Linked DNA regions of Homo sapiens: regions 1 and 2 are each linked to region 3. The links come from fine-mapping of genetic effects on gene expression. A gene starts in region 3. Each other region holds a variant in brackets. All regions are shown on one strand. Distances are between the middles of the regions.

Region 1 (8,184 bases), 100 kb before region 3:
CTTGCATATTTAGTGAATTTTCAGCATTAACTATACAAGTCCTCACAATCTTGTGAGGTAGATCAATCTCCTTTCTAATTTGAATAAACAGACTGTCCTCAGAAAGGATACTGATGCTTACTAAAATTCAACGTTTTTAAGAAAACATTTTCATATTGCATACTTATGGATAATTTTACACTTAAAACCAAATGTGTGCCTGGATTTTTCTAGGTCCTCTGACATAAACATGGCATTGTGAAAAAAAAGCTATATTCAGAGTGTTAATTTTGGTATTTCAAGAAATTCGTCAGTCAGACACAATTATAAATCTAAGCTTGGGTACCAATGCTTCTGTGAAACAAAGCTAGAAGAGATTCCTTTTGCAGACTTATCCCTTGGGATATTTGGGTGTGGCTTGTTTTCTTCTCTGACCGAAACAAAGATATGCAGGAAAATCTTCTTTTACAACTAAAATTCCTTGTTCTCACAAACGAGCTTGAGGAAAAAAAAAAGCAGCAGATCTAGCCCAGCTTAATCATTTGCTTCTACTAGTGCATATATTGGATTTAATCCAAGTTAACAAAAATAAAGCCGCAGGATAGATACATGCAGTCGTATATTTAAGCTACTGACTCACATACATGTTAATGTCTGAAAGTATTTAAAAAATATGGAGGCGGAAGAAAAACAGTAAGAAGTGATAAAACATAACAAGTTTTCTTATTCTTTATTAGTTTAAAGGAAGCTAGAACCTAATAACAATACGCCACATACGGTTCAGAACCAAACAAAAGCTGCTTAGTTATTTATTTTGCATTTGCATTTTGTAGGAAGTGAGAAAAAAACAGCTCTATTGGGACTCAAGTTTATTTTCAATTAAAATCCCCATAAATTAGGAAATGTCTTATAAAACGGAGAAATTGGAAAAAAATGTTATTCAGAAAAAAACTTTCTTGAGTGTGCTTGTTTCCTGTAGCACCTTGGATTTTGTGATCAGTCTTTTAAAGATATTTTTTAAAAAATTCAACCTCTGTCTTCACATTTAGGACAGGGCATAACAGTGTCTTGTCCTTTCATGCAAATAAGAGGAAAAATTTATACTTGCTTAGTTTCGAGCATTGAAAGCACTCGCCCCTAATTCTGCCATTTGCTCATGTCCCACATGAATAAAAGGATACAGCTTAGAAACCAGGGCCTTGCTGCTATTGTATTTTTTTCTAATTAAAATTCAGAGTATTAAACACAGTTGAGTACATCCATGCATACATGACATACCGTCATCACATACCGGAAGCTCCAATCAAGAGCCCCGAGCAAAGCTCGTTTCATAACATCATTAAGATTCATTGTACACTGCGTTTCAGAAAGGCTTTGTCAAAGCAGATAATAATGGCCTGTCAGAAATGCACAAACAGAAATTTATATTAAATTGTCCTTTCCCTCCTTTTAAAATATGGGAATCTATTAATAGCTGCATTCCCGGTATAGGGGACTCAAGTCTTCAGTTAAAAAAAAGTCCCCAGCTTCTTAATATTGTAAGCTTATTACCAAAATAAGAGTATAAAAAGTTAAGTGAAAAATATTTGAGTAACTAGGTGGGGGTATTCCTGGGAATACTAATCAAATATAATGACTGTATCAAAACAAAGGAAGGCGGAGCTCAGGAGTGTGAAGGTAGATAGCATTGCTGAGTCACAAGGCGGAGTGTTTAATTTGGAACAAGTCAAATAAAAGCACTGCTTTCTTTTCCTTAGGAACCTTTGATACTCTTTATATTAACCTCAGAAAAGAAAGCTCTCTCATTTGAACATTTTTTTCTTTTATATCCTGCTGAGTGAAGATGCCTGGGGGGACAAACTTGACAGCTGGCTTCCCAAGTACAGGCGTAAATATGATGCTATCTGGGACTTTAGTGGTGAGAATTCATGTCTTTAGACTCGATATTTTTCTTTACCGTGCTCATTGATGACGCATATGTGCTGAAACAATAAAGGATTTAAACGCATCAGTTTCTTAACAAAATATGAGACACAGAAAAGGTGATGCAGTAATAACCGAATGCCATCCTGTAATTGGCTATTGATCATTTAAATAGAAATGTGTGTATTTATATGTGTGGGTAAAATCTAAAGAGACCCATTCAAGTGCTTGACAAAAGGTCCTTTGTGGTTTAGTTTGGAGATTCCTATTCTGAATCCGGCTCCCCAGGTCCCTAAAACCCAGAAATGCTGAGGGAGCTGTATGTTTAGCCCTGCTAGAAACAGAAGTCTCCTACTGGTAAGATGACAACTGCTTGGGTGAATGGAGAAATAACAGTGGCAAGCACAACATGGGCTCTTATTCAACCCTTTTTGGGCAACAAGCAAAGGGTTAGGAATATTTTGATTGAAAGCAACAGAAATGGGGCCAGGCTAATGTAAGCAAAAAAGGAGGATTTGGATGGGCTCAGTGGCCCCTGTCTGTAATCCCAGTACTTTGGGAGGCTGAGGTGGGAGCATGATTTGAAGCCAGGAGTTCAAGACCAGCCTGGACAGCATACGAAGACCCCATCTCTACAGCAAGTAAAAATATTAGCTAGGCATAGTGGCGTGTGCCTGTAGTCCCAGCTACTCAGGAGGCTGAGGCGGGAGGATCGCTTGAGCCTGGGAGTTCAAGGCTGCAGTGAGCTATGATTGCGTCACTGCACTCTAGCCTAGGTGAGACTGTGGAGTGAGACCCTGTGTCTTTAAAGAGGGGGGAGGGGGAATTTATTGGTGGAATACTGGGGTAGCTCTCAGAATCCAAGGATGAGCTGGGCAATGAAGCAACTAGAAGGCAGGAACAAGGGCAGCTCCAGAGACTTTCACCCATGGTGCTATGGATACTCTCTGGGGGCACTGCTATCCTAGTGGTTGAAGTCTGAACACACTCAGTCTCTGTGACTTTTGGTTTAAATTTCTAATTCCCAGGACAGAGAGACTGATTGGTCCACTATGGGTAAGTTGTCTACCTCTAGATCATGCAGTGTTGGTCAGGGTCACACAGCTGGGGTCCACACTGGGGGTCCACGTCTGTGTGGTGAGATCATTTCCCCCAAAGAGGGAAGAGTTATGAGCTGCATGCCACTGTAATTGAAACCTGCTAGAGTTCAAGCACTGACACAAACCAGTGTATAGAATATTGGCTATTGTTATGGTTGGTTGGGCACAGTCAATGACTATGGAGAAGAATCAGTGTCAAACCATAGTTCTGCTTTTAGCTTCCTATTTCTTTAGTACAAAATAGAGATAATCATAATTTGCCTCTATCATCCTGATACCTACCCTGCAGAATAGTAGTGGGAGTTAATTGGGAGTATGGATGCAATGTGCTCACCATACTCCTGACATAGAAGATACTCAATCAATAGCAGACATCACTAACACGCATTCAATACTTTTTTAAATTGTTAAGTTCTTATAAAAAGGGCGGTTAGGGATTTGCATGCAAGACTTACATTCAGATCTCTGAAGTATTCATTGTAATCTAAGGCATATCCCACCACAAATAAGTTTGGAATCTCAAATCCAGCATCTTAGCAGACAGAGAAA[G/C]AGAAAAAAAAAAAGGAACAAAATTTAGATTATATAAATGCAAGTCACCATATGCTGCTGTCGCCACTCAAACTTGAGGACCTTTCATTGAGGCAGGAGGGAGTGAGAAATGGTGAGAAATGCACACGATGAGCCCAAGAGGGACCTGGACCCGAAGGACTACTCGGGAGGAAGGAGGCAAGGCAAACAAGCCAACCTACAATGAAGAATGACTGATCTAGCATACAGAGTTGAGAAAGGGCTCAGGAAGCCTGGTGCATAACAAGAAATATGCATAATTGAGTCACGTGGCCCTGGTGTTCTAAAGCAAGCAGTATGCAGTGATACGATGCCAAAGGAAACACTCTCAACAACACAAAGGAAAGTTCAAGCAGAAGGCGTTACGACGCTGCATTATGTGAACAGGTGCGCGGGCCACAGCAACTAGAAAGCAATTCTCCCGCTGTACTCAGTGTCTTGGCTGTTTAAAGGGCTGGAAAGCAAAAGCCAGGACACAAGATGAAAGGCAACGGGATTGTTCAACTTGAGGAAGAGAATGTGGAGGTTGCATTAATGCTGGTCTTTGGGTTCATGATGCAGAGGATATTAATGAGCTCCCTACTGAGGGCAGAATGAGAGGAAATGGATTTAAGCACAGTGCAAGGTACTTATGAAAAGCAAAAGAAGATTCATTGAAAAGATGATGATTTTTTGTCAGAAAGGATTCTTTTTTTTTTTCTGAGACCGAGTCTCGCGATCTTGGCTTACTGCAGCCTCCACCACCAGGGTTCAAGCCATTCTCCTGCCTCAGTTTCCCGAGTAGCTGGGAAGACAGACGTGTGCCACCATGCCAGGCTAATTTTTGTAGTTTTAGTAGAGATGGGGTTTCACCATGTTGGCCAGGCCAGTCTCGAACTCTTGACCTCAAGTGATCCATCCGCCTCAGTCTCCCAAAGTGCTGGGATTACAGGCATGGGCCACTGAACCTGGCTATTTTTTGAGAAAGGATCTCACTCTGTTGTCCAGGCGTGTGATCATGGCTCACGGCAGCCTCTACCTCCACAGGCTCAGGAGATCCTCTCACCTCAGCCTCCTGAGTAGCTGGGACTACAGGCATGCAAAACTACGCCTGGCTAATACTTATTGGAGAGAATTCTTAAGGAACAGACAATAGCTCTCCTTCTTCAGAAGTCTTGAAACAGAATAAAGGTGCACTGGTCCAGTGATTTTCAAACTTGTTTCAGTGTTTTGGAATCTTACAGGTTTGTTTATTACAGTATTATAGATGAGAGATTTATTTGCTTACTTTTAATGGAAGTGTACTTGGGTACAGCCAGTGGGCTTATAGCCTGGGCAAAGTCATCTCCACAGTGACTATGACCAACGATGCTTTCACAAGAAGAAAACGACTGGTTCATGCTCATAGAAAGTACTGGAGGTACTTATTTTCTAGGGGGTTACATTATGGAGTCCCTTGCTAGGAAAATAAGTACTAGAGGTGAGGGACTTATTTTCTAGGGGGTTGCATTATGGAGTCCCTTGCTAGGAAGCCTGCTTGATTCCTCCAAACTGCAGAGTTTCTTGAAAAAAAGAGTAAGAGAGGAGAAGCAAGAGCAGAAGAGGTCAGAAGTTACATTGAGGAGAAAAGAAAGAATCAATCAGGAGAAAGGAACGCAAAGTACAAAGCCTCATAAATCCAGAGAGAAAGAAGGAACAGAGATTCTGAGCTAGCTAAAAGAATATGAAGCCGGGTGCGCACCTGCAGTCCCAGCTATTCAAGAGGCTGAGGCAGGAAGATCATTCGAGGCCAGGAGTTTGAGACCAGCCTAGGCAACAAAGTGAGATCCCATCTCAAAAAGAAAAAAAAAAGGTAAGGTGCAGTGGCTCACGCCTGTAATCCCAGCACTTTGAGAGGCTTAGGTGGGTGGATCACCTGAGGTCAGGAGTCCAAGACCAGCCTGGCCAACATGGTGAAACCCCATCTCTACTAAAAATACAAAAATTAGCCAGGTGTGGTGGTACCTGTAGTCCCAGCTACTTGGGAGGCTGAGGCAGGAGAATCACTTGAACCTGGGAGGCAGAAGTTGCAGTGAGCCAAGATCACGCCACTGCACTGGGCGACAGAGTCAGATTCCGTCTCAAATAATAATAATAATAATATGAGCAAATCCCAAGAAACCCTGTTTGTAACCAGGGTTATAATAATGACTTTATAGGGAGCAATGCAATCCTTCCATTAGGCAGGGCAACTCACACTGGGAAAATGAGAGCCCAAAGCCTATTTAGAAGGCCAAAACTTGAGATGTCATAGAATAAAAGGATGATGGATCAGCAGGACAATCATGAATCAGAGTGACCTATCCTTAGCTGGTAAATGCAGGCAGCTCCTACACTTACATTTGCAATAGCAGATGTTACTTGCAGATGTAGTGGAAGAGTCAGGGCAGTGACTGAAACCAGATTGCCTGGGCTTAATATTGGCCTGACACTCATGGCTACATGACTTTGGCAAGCTATTTAAGCTTGCTGTGCTCAATTTCCTCATCTGTAAAATAGGTACAACAACAGCTCCTACCTTTAGAGAGCTATTGTGTGGATGAAATGAGCTAATCTCTGTATAGCTCTTAGAATAGTGCATGGCACATCACGACCTCTTCCTAGTGTTAGCTGCTATTATTTTATTGCTGTTATTATAAGTGATATAAGAAATTTGTCATTGAAGTGAATGTTTTTCAACTTCAGTTAAAATCTTATTTATACACTGAGTATCCTGTACTATTTCCTTAGACAATTTCTGCTTAGTAACCGCATGCAACCTTGACTACATCCAGATTATACCTTTGATAATAGTAATAGATGAGAACATGCGATTGGGTCTCTCTGCCCAGAACTGACATGGTCCAGAGTTAACACATCCAGCACAGGCATGAAACTTGTTTTCAGAATGTAGAGTCACTGGCTAAATGTCGCTGGCATGTCACCCATCCATACTGCACTTCTCTTTCGCTAATGTTTGTTCAGCTTGCTGAAGAGAACTGTAGCCAAATTATCCCAGGAGCTTTGGAGCAAATGTAAGTTATAAAAATCAAGCTGAAGTCTGCCTATGCAAGTGAAAAAAAATCGCCTCTAGTGTTAGAATAATAAATAATTAGGCTGCGTGTTTATCCTTCTTGGTGTTAGAACTAGGCTTATTATGGGGAGAAGGGAGGAGAGTGTCCTAGATGAGGAAGCCCTAGAGAACACACATCTGAAGTCAAGTGTGAAGATGGTATCTAGAGATACCTGCTCTGCTAATTCTCTGTGTTACGGAGCTTTGGTTTGGAGGTGAAGGGGAGCTGTCTTAGATTTCCCCTTCTGTGCGTTACAATTCAGGCTTGCTAAAGGTCACCATTGTGCGTTGTCTGGTAATAGTTCCGGATGATGGCATAAGAATCCCTCTAAACCTCCATAGCACCTCTCCTTGTCTGACTGGTGAGAATAGAGGCCAAGGCGGGGATCCTATGTGTCTGAGTCAGTCCAGCGGGATCAGGTCTTCCTCTACTCCCTGAAACTTTTCAGCTGACTTCTCTGTAGTTAAGGTGCTGTGTGAAACATACAAATAAAAATACCCAATGCACGGAACAGAGTTCCTGTGAAAGATGCAAATTAGAACATTGAAGACCCTCATTTTGAAGGGTTCTGTTTTCCCTATCAAGGTGGGGGAGATCATGAGGAATCCGTGGGACTATCAGCCCTACACAGTTTCAAATCCACATGCAATGCTGTCAAATAGGAAACCAAAGATTCTTAAACATAAAATGAAACACCATAAGCACAAAACAAACAAACAAACAAACAAAAAACTGAAAAACACTTACAGTCAGGTCTAAAGCCGTCACTTCTGGATGTTCTCTTCACCAACAAACTACCATTAAAAAAGACATGCTTTAGTGAACCCAATCAAATCTCTATGAATTGTAAATAGAATCAAGCATCATTAAAAGATGTACTTGAAATACATATTTTGCTACTGTGGCACTATATAGATGGTTCTGGATAAAAAGAAGACAGCAGGTCAGGCACAGTGCTTACATCTGTAATCCCAGTGCTTTGGGAGGACAAGGTGGGAGGATCACTTGAGCCCAGAGTTCAAGACCAGTCTGGGCAACATAGCGAGACCCCTGTCTCTACAAAAAATTAAAAAATTTAGCTGGGTGTGGTGGCACCTGCCTGTAGTCCCAGCTACTTGGGAGGCTGAGGTGGGAGGATTGTTGTAGCCCAGGAGTTGAAGGCTGCAGTGAGCCTTGATTGCACTATTGCACTCCAGCCTAGGTGACAGAAAGAGACCCTGTCTCAAAAAGCAGATAAAATATAAAAAAACTTTTTAAAAAGGTAGCTGTCAGCCAGGCACAGTAGCTCATGCTTGTAATTCCAGCACTTTGGGAGGCCAAATCACTTGAGCTCATAAGTTTGAGACCAGCCTGGCCAACATGGTGAAAACCCATCTTTACTAAAAATACAAAAATTGGCTGGGCATGGTGGTACGTGTCTGCAGTCTCAGCTACATGGGAGTCTGAAGCAAGAGAATTGCTCGAACCCGGGAGGGTGAAGTTGCAGTGAGCTGAGATTGTACCACTGCACTCCAGCCTGGGTGACAGAGCAAGACTCCGTCTCA
Region 2 (8,184 bases), 31 kb before region 3:
ATGACAGATGGATTTACTAGTGGATTCCCATGGAGACAGATGTCCTTTTCAGTGGGGGAGTCCCAAATGCAATAGATGGAGGTCTTTTCTTTACAACCATTCAGTTTCCTCAAAGAACATTCACTGTCAAACCTCAGTGCCTCATTGGTGGGGGCTACGAGTGGTCACATGCCCGGCTGCTAAGGAAGAGAGCTGATGGTCTCAGAATCTCATATAAAAAGTTTAGCTGGATCTCCCCAGGCCTCTGTTTTACCTGGTGTCCGTGTTTTTGGTACTTTTTTGGTTCATTTTTTTCTGAAAAATTAATCTTCAGTTTCCTGCAATAGTGGTAGAAGGGGATGAGGCTGGGTGGGAGGGGAGGAGAGCTGTCACCTGACTTCCAACAATGGAAGTGGGGTGGAGGACCAGGGAGTCCCAATGATCTTCACAATGACATCATCTCATTGCCTGCTGTCCCTGACATTGCTGGAGCACTAAGTCTCTCAAGGCCTCATTTAACTGGGTTCTTCTTTGGTGTCATTCATTGCAGGCACTTGGGTCCAACTTATCTCCATGCCATTACATTCATGTTCTCTGGACCTGCTGTCTTCTCTCTTGTCCAGTTTGTCATATGAGGTCACTTTTAACTATATCATATCATATCATATCATATTATATATATCCATGTCATTTTAGTGGAGAATGCAAATCAAATATGTGTGGTTAATATCTTTTTTATTTTATTTTATTTTTATTTTAAGAAATGGGGTTTCACATTGTTGCTCAGGCTACAGTACAGTAAGGATTATAGCTCACCGCAGTCTTGAATTCCTGGGCTCATGGGATCCTCCTGCCTCAGCCTCCCAAGGGCTGTGACTACAGATGCATACCACCATGCCTGGCTAATTTTTAGATTTTTGTAGAGACTAGGTCTCACTATGTTGCCCAGGCTGGTCTTGAATTCCTGGGCTCAAGCAATCCTCCCCACTCAGCCTCCCAAAGCTCTAGGGTTACAGGTGTGAGCCACTATGCCTGGTCCAATCTGTCCTTTTTCAATAGACGTTCCAAGACATTAAAGATAATATAACTTCAAATCTGTCAGGGACCTTACAGATCTTGAAATCCAACCTCATCATTTTACAAATGAACAAAGGAAAACCCATAAAAATGAGTTCCTTGCCAAAGTGAACGGTGGTAATGGGGCCCTCCTTCTGGGAAGCAGTGTGGAAAGACTGTGGCCTCCATGCTCTTGAATCAGCCTGTGTAGTTTTACATCTTAGCCCCATTCTCGGCCAGCTCTATCTTAAACTGTCTGTGGATCACTTTCCTTACATGTAAAATGGGGATAATAAATTACTTTACTTATCAGGTTGTGGTGGGCACTAATGAAATAATATTTATAAGGCACTTAAAATAGTACTTTCAATAGTAATCAATCAATATATTATTATTAGTTTAAGTAAATCAAATTCAACTTTTAAAATCCTATACCTGGTACTAATAAACTAGAAAGATATCTTAGGATATATTAGAAATAAGTCTTTCTCTTAAAAATATACTATAAGGCTATAGTAACCAAAACAGCATGGTACAAGTACAAAAACAGACACATAGACCAATGGAACAGAATAGAGATTTCAGAAATAAGACCACACATCTACAACCATCTGATCTTTGACAAACCAGACAAAAACAAGCAATAGGGAAAGGACTCCCTGTTTAATAAATGGTGCTGGGAGAACTGGTTAGCCATGTGCAGAAAATTGAAACTGCACCCCTTCCTTATATCTTATACAAAAATTAACTCCAGATGGATTAAAGACTTAAATGGAAAACCCAAAACTATAAAAACTCTAGGAGAAAATCTAGGCAATACCAGTCAGGACATAGGCATGGGCCAAGATTTCATGACAAAAACATCAAAAGCAATTGCAACAAAAGCACAAATTGACAAATGGGATCTAATTAAACTGAAGAGCTTCCACACAGCAAAAGAAACTATTGTCAGAGTGAACAGACAACTTATAGATGGGAGAAAATTTTTGCAATCTATGCATCTGACAAAGGGCTAATATCCAGAATCTACAAGGGACTTAAACAAATTTACATTAAAAAAAAACCATTAAAAATGGGCAAAGGACATGAACAGACACTTCTCAAAAGAAGACATTTAAGTGGCCAACAAACATGAAAAAAAACTCAACATCACAAATCATTAGAGAAATGCAAATCAAGACCACAATGAGATACCATCTCATGCCAGTCAGAATGGTGATTATCAAAAAGTCAAGAAACGATAGATGCTGGTGAGGCTATGGAGAAATAGGAAAGCTTTTACCCTGTTGGTGGGAATGTAAATTAGTTCAACCATTATGGAAGACAGTGCGGCAATCCCTCAGAGACTTAGAATCAGAAATACCATTTGACCCAGTAATCCCATGGCTGGGTATATACTCAAAGGAATATAATAAATCATTCTATTATAAAGATACATGCACACTTATGTTCACTGAAGCACTATTCACAATAGCAAAGACATGGAATCAACCCAAATGCCCATCAATGATAGACTGGATAAATAAAATGTTATATATATATGTGTATATATATATGAGTGTGTGTGTATATATATATGTGTGTGTATATATATATATACCATGGAATACTATGCAGCCATCAAAAGGAAGGAGATCATGTCCTTTGCAGGAACATAGGTGGAGCTTGAAGCCATTATAGTCAGCAAACTAATGCAGGAACAGAAAACCAAGCACCACATGTTCTCATTTACAAGTGGGAGCTGAACAATGAGAACACATGGACACAAGGAGGGGAACAACACACACTAGGTCCTGTTGGGGATGGAAGATGCGGCGACAGCATCAGGATAAATAGCTAACACATGTGGGGCTTAATACCTAGGTGATGGGTTGATAGATGCAGCAAATCACCATGGCACACATTTACCTATGTAACAAACCTGCACGTCCTGCACATGTATCCTGGAACTTAAAATAAAATTCAATTTTTTTTTCAAAAAAGGAAATAAGTCATTCTAGTAGATGTATTCTGCATAGAGTAGTCTAACAGTACTGCTGATGGAAAAATAACTATCCCTGAAAAAGTCTACAATAATCTATCCATTTGATATATATTTAAATTTATCCATTAAAAGAAACAAACATGGAATTCCATAATGGTTTTCAAAATAAAATATTTCACTAATCTTCTAAAATTACTAACAATTCTGTTACAGGAACACTGCCTCAAAGCATCTAAAATGGTATTCTGTTTTGCAGATCTAAATTGACCTACACTGAAAGTAAGTAGCTTTTGCTTTAAGTATAGGAATAAAACAAGAATATGTCACTTTCATGGTTAAGTATTTCCCTGCCTACAACACAGCGGTTACAAGTGATTAAAAAAAAAACAAAAAAACAAAAAACAAAGGTGTCATTATCACTTCCTGAGTGATCAGGGCTCAGATATCGCTGGAGTAAGGGGTATGTTTAAAAATCATTTTTGTCCTAAGAAATTATCTTAATATGAAGATGAGGGAGAATATCACACATTTTCATTTCTCAGATCTCTTACACACGCCAATGTGAATTTTGGAAGTGTGAGTTGGGGCAGACTTCTGAGCCTGCCTTCTAGCTATCTTTCCTAATTAGAGGAGGATCCACACCCCAAAACAACACACAGAGGTCTATAGGGCACCAAAGCCCCCATCCCGGTCCTTCAACAGGGACTCCTGAGAGCTGCAGAGAGGAAGGAGTCATTCCAGGCCTCGATGATCACATGCTAACCAACACTTCCCACTGCTGTATTAGATTAGCATTTTTAGCAAAAGTACTGCTGACTCATCACCAACTGCTGGCCTTTTCCTTTCCACTCCTGCCTAGTCATTCCTCTCTGTGGCGTGGGCTGTGGGGGCCCTTGACGTACTGTTGTGCCCTTTTCCTCACCAAGAGTCATCCTGTTTTTAATGACATTATTCTCCTATTTGTCAATGTCTGTTTGAGTTCATTTCTGTTCTCTAGGAAAAAAAAAAAAAAAAAGCTAGGCAAACAAAAAAATGTCAAAACTGTCCTCCTCCAAATGAATCCCAAATTAATAAGTAGAAAATTAAATAATTCTTGTCCTTGAAAGCTACAGATTGTAAGCATGTTGAATTACCTGAGTGATTAACAATAATGCTGTGTTTAATAATGGCAAACTCATGCAAGAAAGGAATATACACTATGGGTTAAAACGACAATAAAACCATTAAACTCAAACTTTATTATAGTACAATGAGCATCATAAACAATTGTCAAAGGCATTATTTTTCCATAAATATTTTCCCCAAACCATTTTATTATATATCCAACTGTGTTGCTTTTTCCCACCAAATCCAAATTATTTCCTGGTAACTTTCCTAGACTTTAAAGTTCATGTGTTTTATAAAATACAAATGGAATATGTAATCTCAAAAAGATTTTCCTGGTCTTGATGCTAAATTTTACATTCTATATCAGTTACAAAATGTTGATAAAAATAACCTAACATAAAATAAGGATAATTGTTAATATTTTGCTGCCTGCAATTATTTTCCTGCAGAAAATGAGAAATTATCTGGGCATAATTAATAAAATACATCATTAGATCCTTTTTGGAAAAGATCAGGTATATATCAGTTAAACTGATTACCGCATTGATATGGTTTGGCTCTGTGCGCTTACACAAGTCTCACCTTGAATTGTAATAATCTCCATGTGTCATGGGAGGGACCCTGTGGGAAGTAATTGAATCACAGGGGTGGGGTTTTCCCATGCTGTTCTCATGATAGTGAATA[A/G]GTCTCATGAGATCTGATGGTTTTATAAAGGAGAGTTCCCCTGCATATGCCCTCTTGCCTGCCACCATGTAAGATATGATTTTGCCCCTAATTTGCCTTCTGCCATGATTGTGAGGCCTCCCCAGCCATATGGAACTGTGAGTCCATTAAACCTCTTTCCTGGGTCGCTTCCAAGATGGCTGAATAGGAACAGCTCCAGTCTGCAGCTCCCAGCATGATTGATGCAGAAGATGGGTGATTTCTGCATTTCCAACTGAGGTAGCTGGTTCATCTTATTGGGACGGGTTGGACAGTGGGTGCGGCCCATAGGGGGCAAGCCGAAGTGGGGTGGGGCATTGCCTCACCTGGAAGCACAAGGAGTTGGGTGATTTCCCTTTCCTAGCCAAGGGAAGCTGTGACAGACTGTACCTGGAGGAACCGTACACTTCTGTCCAAATACTGCACTTTTCCCACAGTCTTAGCAACTGGCAGACAAAGAGATTCCATCCTGTCTGTGCCTGGCTCAGCAGTCCCATGCCCATGGAGCCTTGCTCACTGCTAGCACAGCAGTCGGAAATCAACCTGTGATGCTGTAGCTGGGCAGTGGGAGGGTCGTCCACCATTGCTGAGGCTTCAGTATGTAAACAAAGTGGCTGGGAAGCTCAAACTGGGCAGAGCCCACCACAGCTCAGCAAGGCCTACCGCCTCTCTAGACTCCACCTCTGTGGGCAGGGTATAGCTGAACAAAAGGCAGCAGTCAACTTCTGCAGACTTAAACATCCCCGTCTGATAGCTCTGAAGAGAGCAGTGGTTCTCCCAGCACAGCATTCGAGCTCTGAGAACGGACAGACTGCCTCCTCAATTGGGTCCCTGACCCCCATTTAGCCTGACTGGGAGACACTCCCAAAAGGGGCCGACAGACACCTCATACAGGTGGGTGCCCTTCTGGAATGAAGCTTCCAGAGGAAGGATCAGGCAGCAATATTTGCTGTTCTGCAGCCTCCGCTGGTGATACCCAGGTAAACGGGGTCTGGAGTGGACCTCCAGCAAACTAAACAGACCCGCAGCTGAGGGGCCTGTTAGAAGGAAAACTAGCAAACAGAAAGGAATAGCAACAACATCAACAAAAAGGACATCCACACCAAAACCCCATCTGTAGGTCACCAACATCAAAGACCAAAGGTAGATAAAACCACAAAGACGGGGAGAAACCAGAGCAGAAAAGCTGAAAATTCCAAAAACCAGAGTTCTTCTTCTCCTCCAAAGGATCGCAGCTCCTCACCAGCAATGGAACAAAACTGGACAGAGAATGAGTTTGAGGAGTTGACAGAAGTAGGTTTCAGAAGGTCGGTAATAACAAACTTCTCTGAGCTAAAGGAACATGTTCTAACTCATCGCAAGGAAGCTAAAAACCTTGAAAAAAGGTTAGATAAATGGCTAACTAGAATAAACAGTGTAGAGAAGAACTTAAATGACCTGATGGAGCTGAAAACCACAGTACGAGAACTTCGTGACGCATGCACAAGCTTCAATAGCTGATTCGATCAAGTAGAAGAAACGATATCAGTGATTGAAGATCAAATTAATGAAATAAAGTGAGAAGACAAGATTAGAGAAAAAAGAGTGAAAAGAAACGAACACAGTCTCCAAGAAATATAGGACTATGTGAAAAGACCAAATCTATGTTTGATTGGTGTACCTGAAAGTGATGGGGAGAATGAAACCAAGTTAGAAAACACTCTTCAGGATATTACCCAGGAGAACTTCCCCAACCTAGCAAGGCAGGCCAACATTCAAATTCAGGAAATACAGAGAACACCACAAAGATACTCCTCGAGAAGAGCAACCCCAAGACACATAATTGTCAGATTCATCAAGGTTGAAATGAAGGAAAAAATGTTAAGGGCAGCCAGAGAGAAAGGTTGGGTTACCCACAAAGGGAAGCCCATCAGACTAACAGCAACAAAAGCCAAAATAGACAAATGGGATCTAATTAAACTAAAGAGCTTCTGCACAGCAAAAGAAACTATCATCAGAGTGAACAGACAACCTACAGAATGGGAGAAAAATTTTGCAATCTACCCATCTGACAAAGGGCTAATATCCAGAATCTACAAAGAACTTAAACAAATTTACAAGAAAAAACAACCCCATCAAAAAGTGGGCAAAAGACATGAACAGACACTTCTCAAAAGAAGACATTTATGCAGCCAACAGACACATGAAAAAAAAATGCTCATCATCACTGGTCATCAGAGAAATGCAAATCAAAACCACAATGAGATAACATCTCACTCCAGTTAGAATGGCTATCATTAAAAAGTCAGGAAACAACAGATGCTGGAGAGGATATGGAGAAATAGGAACACTTTTACATTGTTGGTGGGAGTGTAAATTAGTTCAACTATTGTGGAAGACAGTGTGGTGATTCCTCAAGGATCTAGAACTAGAAATACCTTTGACCCAGGGATCCCATTACTGGGTATATACCCAAAGGATTATAAATCATGCTACTATAAAGACACATGCACACATATGTTTATTGTGGCACTCTTCACAATAGCAAAGACTTGGAACCAACTCAAATGTCCATCAATGATAGACTGGATTAAGAAAATGTGGCACATATACACTATGGAATACTATGCAGCCATAAAAAAGGATGAGTTCATGTCCTTTGCAGGGACATGGATGAGGCTGGAAACCATCATTTTTAGCAAACTATCACAAGGACAGAAAACCAAACACTGCATGTTCTCACTCATAGGTGGGAGTTGAACAATGAGAACACATGGACACAGGGCGGGGAACATCACACATTGAGGCCTGTGGAGGGGGTGTCGGGGGCTGGCGGAGGGATAGCATTAGGAGAAATAACTAATGTAAATGTCGAGTCAATGGGTGCAGCAAACCAACATGGCACATGTATACCTATGTAACAAACCTGCACATTGTGCACATGTACCCTAGAACTTAAAATATAATTAAAAAAATAAATAAACCTCTTTCCTTTATAAATTACCCAGTTTCAGTTATGTATTTATTAGCAGCATGAGAACAGATTAATACAAGCATATTTTTTGTATATATACATAGCATGCTTAAGTTTCATGGGACCAGCAAGCTTTCAAATGATAAACGGAGGAAATGCAGACAACGTGAAATACAACTGAAATCTTCAGGCATCTGTTGTGATTAATACTAATAACACATACACTTTCTTGTGGGTCTGACCCTTCCTAGTTTCCAGCTTCCTCCCTCCTAACTGTTAAGTCACTTGCTCCCTATCCTATCCCCACTTCATCTACTGGCTCGACCTCATCAAATCGCTAGGAAGAAATCCGACCTTAGGTGGGGTTGGAACTCTGTGGAACTGCTAGGCAGCCAACTGGAGT
Region 3 (8,184 bases):
TAAATCTCTTAATATTCCCTTCTCTTGCACAAACTTTACTTCTCGTTTTATATTTATATCATCTGACTCTACATCCCTTGCCATCTTTATCAACAGATTTCTACCAACTCGGAATTTTCTTCTCTACCTCATTCCTGGACAATTCCTTGGCTGATTTACTCCAATGCCTACCTCAACGATCTTTCCAACGACTTCATCTTGTAGCTCCTTCACCAGCCTTAGCTCAAACTACATTCTTAACTCAAATCACATCTTTATTCCCCATTTAGCAATACATTCACATAGCCAGACCAGTCCTACAGATGGCCCCAACCCTGAAATTCCATCCTGGAATCACAGCTTGCTATGTAGTATAGTGATTGAAAGCTGGTTCAAATCCCGCTTCTGCCATTTGCTACTTATGCGACCTGGGTGATTTACTTAATCTCTCAGTGCCTCAGTTTCCTCTTCTGTAAAATGGGGAGCACACTAGACCTCCCTTACAGATTTGTGCTCAAGAAATGCTTGCTATTATTACCTGCCCTCTGCCCCTTTTTTCAGATGGGGTCTCACTCTGACACCCAGGCTGGAATGCAGTGGCACGATCATGGCTCACTGCAGCCTTGACTTCCTGGGCTCAGGTGCTTCTCCCACCTCAGCCTCCCCGGTAGCTGGGACTACAGGCATGCACCACCATGCCTGGCTAAGTTTTGTATTTTTTGTAGAGAGAGGGTTGGCTGCCCAGGCTGGTCTCGAACTCCTGGGCTCAAGTGATTTGCTCTCTCAGCCTCCCAAAGTGCTGGGATTACAGGTGTGAGCCACCACTCCCAGCCACCTGCCCCTTTTTAAAACTGGTACTAATTTGATTTTTTGTATCCCATCCTTGAGAGCTTTCTATTCTCCCAGTAAACTCATCCTCTCCAGCTCTCCCTTCCCTCCTGCCTTACATGCCATGAGCTGCCTTCTACCAGCAGCTTCGATTCGCTCTGAAGTTGCCTGCTTATATCCAACTTGAGGTTAATCTAATTATTCCAAGTTCTACTGGAGAAAAGGATGTAAATGTAGGGACTATCTCCATTATATGTGGATTATTTCCCACCTTTGTGGGCTCTCATGCAAGCACCAAGCCCCTTGGCAGCTGGTCCAGTTTATACTCATTTTTTTTGTTTATTTATTTATTTATTTATTTATTTTTTTTTTTTTTTTTAAGAAGGAGTTTCACTCTTGTTGCCTGGAGTGCAATGGTGCAATCTTGGATTGCTGCAACCTCCACCTTCCGGATTCAAGCAATTCTCCTGCTTCTGCCTCCCAAGTAGCTGTGATTACAGGCATGCACTACCATGCCAAGCTAATTTTGTATTTTTAGTAGCAGCAAGGTTTTACGATGTTGGTCAGGATTCTATTGAACTCCTGACCTCAGGAGATCCACCCACCTCGGCCTCCCAAAGTGGTGGGATTACAGGTATGAGCCACCTCACCTGGCCCTCTACTCTCTTGATACCCCTCTCACTACCTCTTTGCATCTTTCAAAAAATTACCTTGCTTCCAAGAGGACCTCTGTTGACACCAATAGACTGGGCTATTTACAGTGTTCTCTCACTTGTTTTTTAGACTTCAACAATTTACCTACTCTATCCGTGCATCTAGATTCACCTTATTCTTTTCTAAAAGTATGTAGTATGTTACGGTAGTACAAGTTGAGTACCCCTTATCCAAAATGCTTGGGATCAGATGCGTTTCCAATTTCAGATTTTTTTTCCTTTGGATTTTGGAATATTTGCATTATACTTCCTGGTTGAGCATCCCTAATCTGAAAATCCGAAATCCAAAATGCTCCAGTAAGCATCTCCTTTCAGCATCATGTTGGTGCTCAGAAAGTTTCAGATTTTGGAGCATTTCGGATTTTGGATTTTTGGATTAGGGATGCTCAACTTGTACTATATTTTAACCATTCTACCAATGCAGTGGTTGTTTAAAAGATTCTCCCTACTAATGGCTTTGTAATTGTTAAATACAGTGGCTGTTTTCCATCTTGGTATCCGACTTGCTGTCCCTGTAACATCTGACACTTCTGATGACCTCTTGACCCCGCCCCTCCTGCTCAACAATGCTCTATTCCCAAGGCACCCACCATGCTGCCTGCCCTCCCACCCTTCAAAGTTCTTTCTCGGTTCCTTCAACCAGCTTCTCCCCCACAGGCAGCCTCTTATATTTGGGACTTTCCAGGCTTCCATCCTTAACAGTTGCTTTAATTGTTTTTTCCATATTCACTGAGCACTCCCGAACATTACATATTATTCTTTTTGCTGATGACTTCCAAATCTCTCCAATCACTCTCCAGAATTCCAAATGTGAATTTCAAATTGCCTACAGTGCAGGCCAACCTGTGGGCCTTACAGGCACTACAAACTCAATTTGTCCAGAATGAACTTAATGATTGCCCTTTTTGCGTTTTAGTCCCCCTCCCATCCATCACACCGCTAGGCTTGCCCCTCCTCCTGGGGCAACTGGAATGGTTTTTGTAAAAGCATAAATCGGATACAATGATTCTTTTGCATTTGGTATGCGGGTCTCTGCCTGCAGTCCACATGGCTACTCCTGTGTACCCTTCAGATCTTGGCTCAAAGGTCACCGCAGAGAGGCTGCCCTGACCACCTGAGCAAAAGCATCACTCCCCCCTTCTCCTCCAATTACCCTCTATCCTGTTACCCTCCTCCTATTGCACATATCTCTATTTGAAATTTTCTCTATTTGTTTACACACTGCTTGCCTATGTCTTCTCTAGAACGCAAGCTCATGAAGACAAGGCCTTTGTCTTTTGCACCCCAGAGCCTACAGCACCTCCTACAACCCAGCAGGACAATAAACGTGTGGAATGAATAAATCAACTCCTCATCCTTTCAGAAGGAAAGGTCCTGCTGTTAAATTAAGCACTGAGCCCCACATTTCAACCTGACCCTTCTGTCTGAATGTGACACGTTTCCCTCCCCAGCCCACTTACTTTAGTTCAGGCCATTCATATTCATAAACAGATTATCTGTGAATGACAAGCTGATCCCTGGAAAGAGATGGCAAGTTAGCCCCACCCACCATCCTCACCACCATTGAGTTTCACACTGAACCTGACACAAGTTATAACCACCACCTTCTAGGAAAACCACTTCTCAGGGAGCAGGGAGGACGTGGCCACAAGGTCAAGAACGGGTTGGATCCTAGCACACTGAGAGATGGGTACCCTCTGGCTGACACCGTCAGGATTCTCAGGGTTAATGAGGCTCAGTTCTGGGAAACCAGCACCCCACACCCTCCCATCCGGACACACTGCTAGATATTTTACATGCATCCTCCCAATTGGCTCCAGAGCCCAGCTTGCTGTTGCTCCCTTTTACAGACAAGCCATAGGTCACTCAGGAGCCGCCAGCGTGTCCTAGAGCTCCTGCAGAGGCCTCCACTGCCAGAGAGCCCCCAACCTGGGTACCAAAGGCTTCAAATCTCAAGCTCTGTCCACTTGAGCTACTTTATTTCCTAGCTGCCTTCAAAACCCCTCAGTGTGCTTTTTAAAAACAAAACTTGAAGCCCGCCCTGGAGGAGTCAAGAGGAGACCCAGGAAGAAGGAGGCCTCCAGAGCAGCACGCGGGGGTCTCTGGGGCCCTGCCGGGCTCGCAGAAGCGACTCCCCGTGGCTCGCGGGGATGGGGACGGCTGGGCGCCGGCGGGACGCTGCAGGAGCGAGCTACCGGCCGGAGGACACGGGGGGACGCTGGGAACTCGGGGTGAAGGGACGGGACTCAGAGTTTCGTCAGATTGGGGGCGGGGAGAGGAGGCCCGGGTCCGAGGATGGAAGCGATCCCCGCCGGGAGGGAGAACAAAGCGGTGGCCCTCTCTCTCCCCCGACGCACGGCAAGCATTTAATCTACAAGCAGGGTGCCAGGGAGGGAGGGGAGCGGGCCGAGCCCCAAAATAGGGAGTTTGCATTTACCACGACGCCTCGCCCGTAGTCTGGCGCCTCCTCGCTGCTCCCGGCCATGTTTCTCCCGGGGAACGCGGGAAGGGAAGACGGCGCGGGAAGGAGCAGGGAGGGCGAAGGCTGCGTGGGGGATGGGACGTGGGGATGGGGACGGGGACGGGGACGGGGACGGGGACGGGGACGGGTCCGCCCCGCCCCGGGCCCGCCGGCGGGAAGCAGCGGCCTGACGCGGATCCATGGCCCCGGCGCTGCGCCCCCTCCCCTGGCTAGGCCGCGGGGGCGCGGGGAGCAGCTGCCAAGCCGCTACCGCTCCCCCTGAGCGCGGGCCCCGGACGCGTCCCTTGCGGCCGCCGCTGTCGCCGCCGCCCCCTGCCGGATGGTCGCGTGCAGCCCCCGGCCCCGCCGCCAAGCCCCGCGGGGACTCTGGAGCAGGAAGCCCGCGGCAGGAAGAGAACGTGTCCCCCAGGCCCCTGATTCCCAGATCCACCGTCCCAGCCCTCGGGCTAACAATCTCCTTGACTCCTCCCTGCCAGATTTCATGCACGCGATTGTCCCAAGCAGAAGCGTGAAAGAGCCTGTGAGCCAGCGTGCTCTTGGAGGATGGGAAGTGTCCTGGATGTGTTTTCAAACCTTGGAGCCGCCACCCACCTCTCTCCACCTCCGCTCATCTCCCTCCACCTCCCCTCACCTCCCTCCACCTCCCCTCACCTCCCTCCATCTTCCTCCACCTTTCTCCACCTTCCCCCACCTCCCTCATCCCAGGGCCTGGAGCTGGAAAGATTACACCCGATTGCTTTTAGGGTGGCCCGGATCTGCAGTGATCAGATCTGGGCTTTGAGGATCCAGCCTTTCGGCCTTTCGTCAACTGCATTCAGGGGAGGAGGGGGAGAGATTTTTACACATTCTCTGCTTTACCAGTTTTGCAAGAACATCTGGTCAGATTGTAATTGTTCCAGGTTGCAGCTTTACTAAAGCAATCGCTCTTTTCTGATTAGAAATCCTTCTTGTATGAGTCTGTTGTTCATTTCAACCCCTCTCACATGCCTATGCTCCGGTTCTTTGTCCACTCCTGTAGGTTCCTGCTTTTTCTGGGTGTGTCTTCATTCCCCAGGTCCCTGACATCTCACCAGCGTCTTCATTCACTCAGCCCAATTCGGGTCGAAGCCCTGAATCCAAGAGAACTTAACACAGTTTTCCTGATGCAGGCGTCTTTTGTTCATCTTCGAATTCTGGCACACAGAGGGGAGAGGAATGCTGATTTTGCCTAGTTTAAAGGGGAAATAGTTATCAATCGGTTAATGACGTTCTAGGTTGGAAAAATATTAGTCATTCAGACTTGGCGCCCTGGTCCTGCTCAGCAGGGCTGGCTCTTCATGTCGTTTCTAAGCGCCAGCGCCTTGGAGGGTGCAGCTCCAGAGATCCCTGAAATCAGGCATCTGCTTGGCAACTGCCTTACAGAAATGGGGGGTGTTGTTTCTCAGCACACGGGTAAACATTTTCTCCTAGTAATTGTGAGAGGGCGTTGTTTTGAGCCATTTTTGTAGTCTGCATCTCACTTCTTTTCCCCAAAGTCAAGCACCATCTTTTATTTTCATTTTCAAAGACCAGGCCCAGGAACCATATTCACAAGCAACATCATTAAAATTTCCAGGAGCAGAAAAGTGCTATCATTAGGATGATGATCAAACTTTAGAGTTCACAAGACTCTCCTGGGGAGCTGGTTAATGCAGCTTCACTGGGTGGGGAAGATCTGTGGAAGCACCTAGAATCCTGTACCTGCTGAGAGACACCAGATGGGTGTGATGTGGGTGGCTCATGACCCATGCTTTAGGGGATTCCACTAGACCATCTTACTGCTTGGATATCAAAACTTAGCCATGAGGCTCAGTGTGGGTGCAGGGCCAGATTGGGGGGTACCAGGAACTTCAAAATATGTCACAGGAGTAGTTGCCATACAGAAGTCAAAAAGCATCAACTTTGGTTCCAGCCTAGACACTGCGGAAGATGTAAGGGAAATGGTAGATAAATCTTCTTCCCTTAGAAAGGCTATTAGTTTAAACGTAAAATCCAACAAGTTCACAGTGAAAAATGTAACTTGCTTGAAAGACAACAGGAATCTTATGAATGTGTGCTCAAGAACATCCTACATAGACTTATATAGGTCATCCTATAAAGGGCACAGAATGATGAGTAAATAGTTTTTAAAAATCTAATTCATTTTATTATCTTTGTATATTTTGATAATACTTTGTGCGGTCTGATTACACTTCGATACTTTGGAGAGCATTAACATAATACAAAATAATACTTGATAACCCAAATAGTATTTGCAAAGACCGGTATCCAGAAATAACAGCTCATCTGTCCAAGGCTTTATTCTTAATCTTGCATTATGAGGATTTAGAGGCAAAAATTCTTTTTAAACCTCAAATTTCTGTTACATGTTGTATTAGTCTGTTCTCATATTGGTATAAAGAACTACCTTAGACCTGGATAATTTATGAAGAAAAGAGGTTTAATTGACTCACAGTTCTGCAGGCTGTACAGAAAGCAAGGCTGGGAGGCCTCAGGAAATTTACAATCATGGCAGAAGGCAAAGGGGAAGCAAGCACGTCTTACCATGGCAGAGCAGGAGAGAGAGAGAGCAAGGGTGTAGTGCCACATACTTTTAAACCATCAGATCTTGTGAGAACTCACTCACTATAACGAGAACAATATGGGAGAAATCCACCCCCATGAGCCAATCACCTCCCACCAGATCCCTCCCCCAACACTGGGAATTACAATTCAACATGAGATTTGGGTGGGGACACAGAGCCAAACCATATCACATGTCTAGTGGAATAGCTTTGGACTAGGACCTCTATTTTTCTGTAACAATCCATGTTACTTTAGCCAATGAGTCTAAGCCAATTATATCAGTGTAATATACATCAATTTTCTCATCCATAAAATGGAGCCACCCATTTATTCTCTACTGCATATGATGATGAGATGAATGTGAGATAACATGCAAGAGAATTCTTTGCAAAATGCTATAAAACTGTAAGATATTATTAACCTGACATGCTGTAAAAATGTATGACCAAATGTTTGTAAAATTATTCCATGTGAAAATGACAAGGAATTGTCTTTTAAGGTTGATGGGGCTAGGCACCATGGCTCACACCTGTAATACCAGCACTTCGGGAGGCCAAAGCAGGAGGCTCACTTGAGGCCAGGAATTCAAGACCAAACCTGGGTAACATTGTAAGACCACATCACTATAAAAAATTAAAAACTTAGCCAGGTGTGGTAGCGTGGCACCTGTAGACCTAGCTACTGGGGAGGCTGAGCTGGAAAGATTGCTTGAGGCCAGAAGTTTGAGGCTGCATTGAGTCATAATTGCACCACTGCACTCCAGCCTGGGTGACAGAGCAAGACCCTGTCCCTACAAACAAATAATAATAATAATAATAAAAGATTGACGTAAGGTGACCAATCAGGGATAGTTATAGTCCAGGGATAGTCTAGAGCTGGTATGAGAATGAATACAGAAAAATGATAAAATTATTAAAATAATGAGATTTTTCATAAAAAGGGATATTTTAGCTCAGACTGTCCATTTCCTTTTCTTTTTTTTTCCTTTCCAACTTTTATTTGAGGTTTGGGGGTACACACGCAGGTTTGTTTGGGAAAATTGCATGTCGCAGGGGTTAGGTGTACAGATTATTTCATCACCCAGGTAATAACCATAGCACCTGATACATAGTTTTTTGATCCTTACCCTCCTCCCGCCCTCCACCCTCAAGTAGGCCCTGGTCAGACTGTCCATTTTCTAATATACCTTTGAAAGAGCTATAAGAATAAAGATGTGCATCTTTGCAAAGTTAATAACCAGTCAATATACTTGTATTTTTCTATCATTCTCTTTATTACATTTTAGCAGTAGTTTCTCTGCATTTTATTTATTTTTTTTTTTTGGTGTTTATATTGTGTTTACTTACTTTTTTTTTTAGTTTTATTTTTAACTGACACATAATAGTTATACATATTATCTATGGGGTACAGTGTGATATTCCACTACATGTATACATTGCATAATGATCAACTCAGGGTAATTAGCATACTCATCATCTCAAGCATTTTTCTTTTCTTTGTGGTGAGAACATTCAAAATTGTCTCTTCTAGCTGATTTGAAATATACAACACATTATTGTTAAATATATCATTCTGCTGTGCCATACAGCAGGTGTCCCC

Which allele goes with the higher level. Alleles are on the strand shown, and positions count from the first base shown. SD is a standard deviation of normalised expression in the study named.
For the expression in spinal cord of the gene that starts at base 4,036 in region 3, allele C in region 1 goes with a lower level than allele G (small effect, 0.38 SD a copy in GTEx).
In carriers of allele G in region 2, the expression in monocytes of the gene that starts at base 4,036 in region 3 tends to be lower than with A alone (moderate effect, 0.69 SD a copy in Quach 2016).

What was found. PIP is the estimated chance that this variant, and not a neighbour inherited with it, causes the effect.
Region 1: its variant is fine-mapped to the expression of PRTFDC1 in spinal cord (GTEx, PIP above 0.99). The same link has a PIP of 0.9 or more in hippocampus and putamen.
Region 2: its variant is fine-mapped to the expression of PRTFDC1 in monocytes (Quach 2016, PIP 0.95).

Annotation. Positions count from the first base shown.
Region 1 is chr10:24,847,931-24,856,114 of GRCh38, forward strand. PRTFDC1 (phosphoribosyl transferase domain containing 1) reads right to left here. Exons shown (of 9, transcript NM_020200.7): 7 at 7,388-7,434; 8 at 3,458-3,534; 9 at 684-1,961. The coding sequence ends at 1,914. Among named protein-coding and RNA genes, the nearest start is that of PRTFDC1, 100 kb to the right of the region's middle. The variant G/C (reference allele first, on the strand shown) is at 3,552.
Region 2 is chr10:24,917,698-24,925,881 of GRCh38, forward strand. All of the region lies in intron 3 of PRTFDC1 (phosphoribosyl transferase domain containing 1), which reads right to left. Among named protein-coding and RNA genes, the nearest start is that of PRTFDC1, 31 kb to the right of the region's middle. RefSeq lists an enhancer at 3,763-3,907 and a cis regulatory region at 3,830-3,840. The variant A/G (reference allele first, on the strand shown) is at 4,811.
Region 3 is chr10:24,948,571-24,956,754 of GRCh38, forward strand. PRTFDC1 (phosphoribosyl transferase domain containing 1) reads right to left here and starts at 4,036. Exons shown (of 9, transcript NM_020200.7): 1 at 3,958-4,036. The coding sequence starts at 4,005. It also overlaps a transcript of THNSL1 not described here. RefSeq lists a silencer at 4,197-4,386.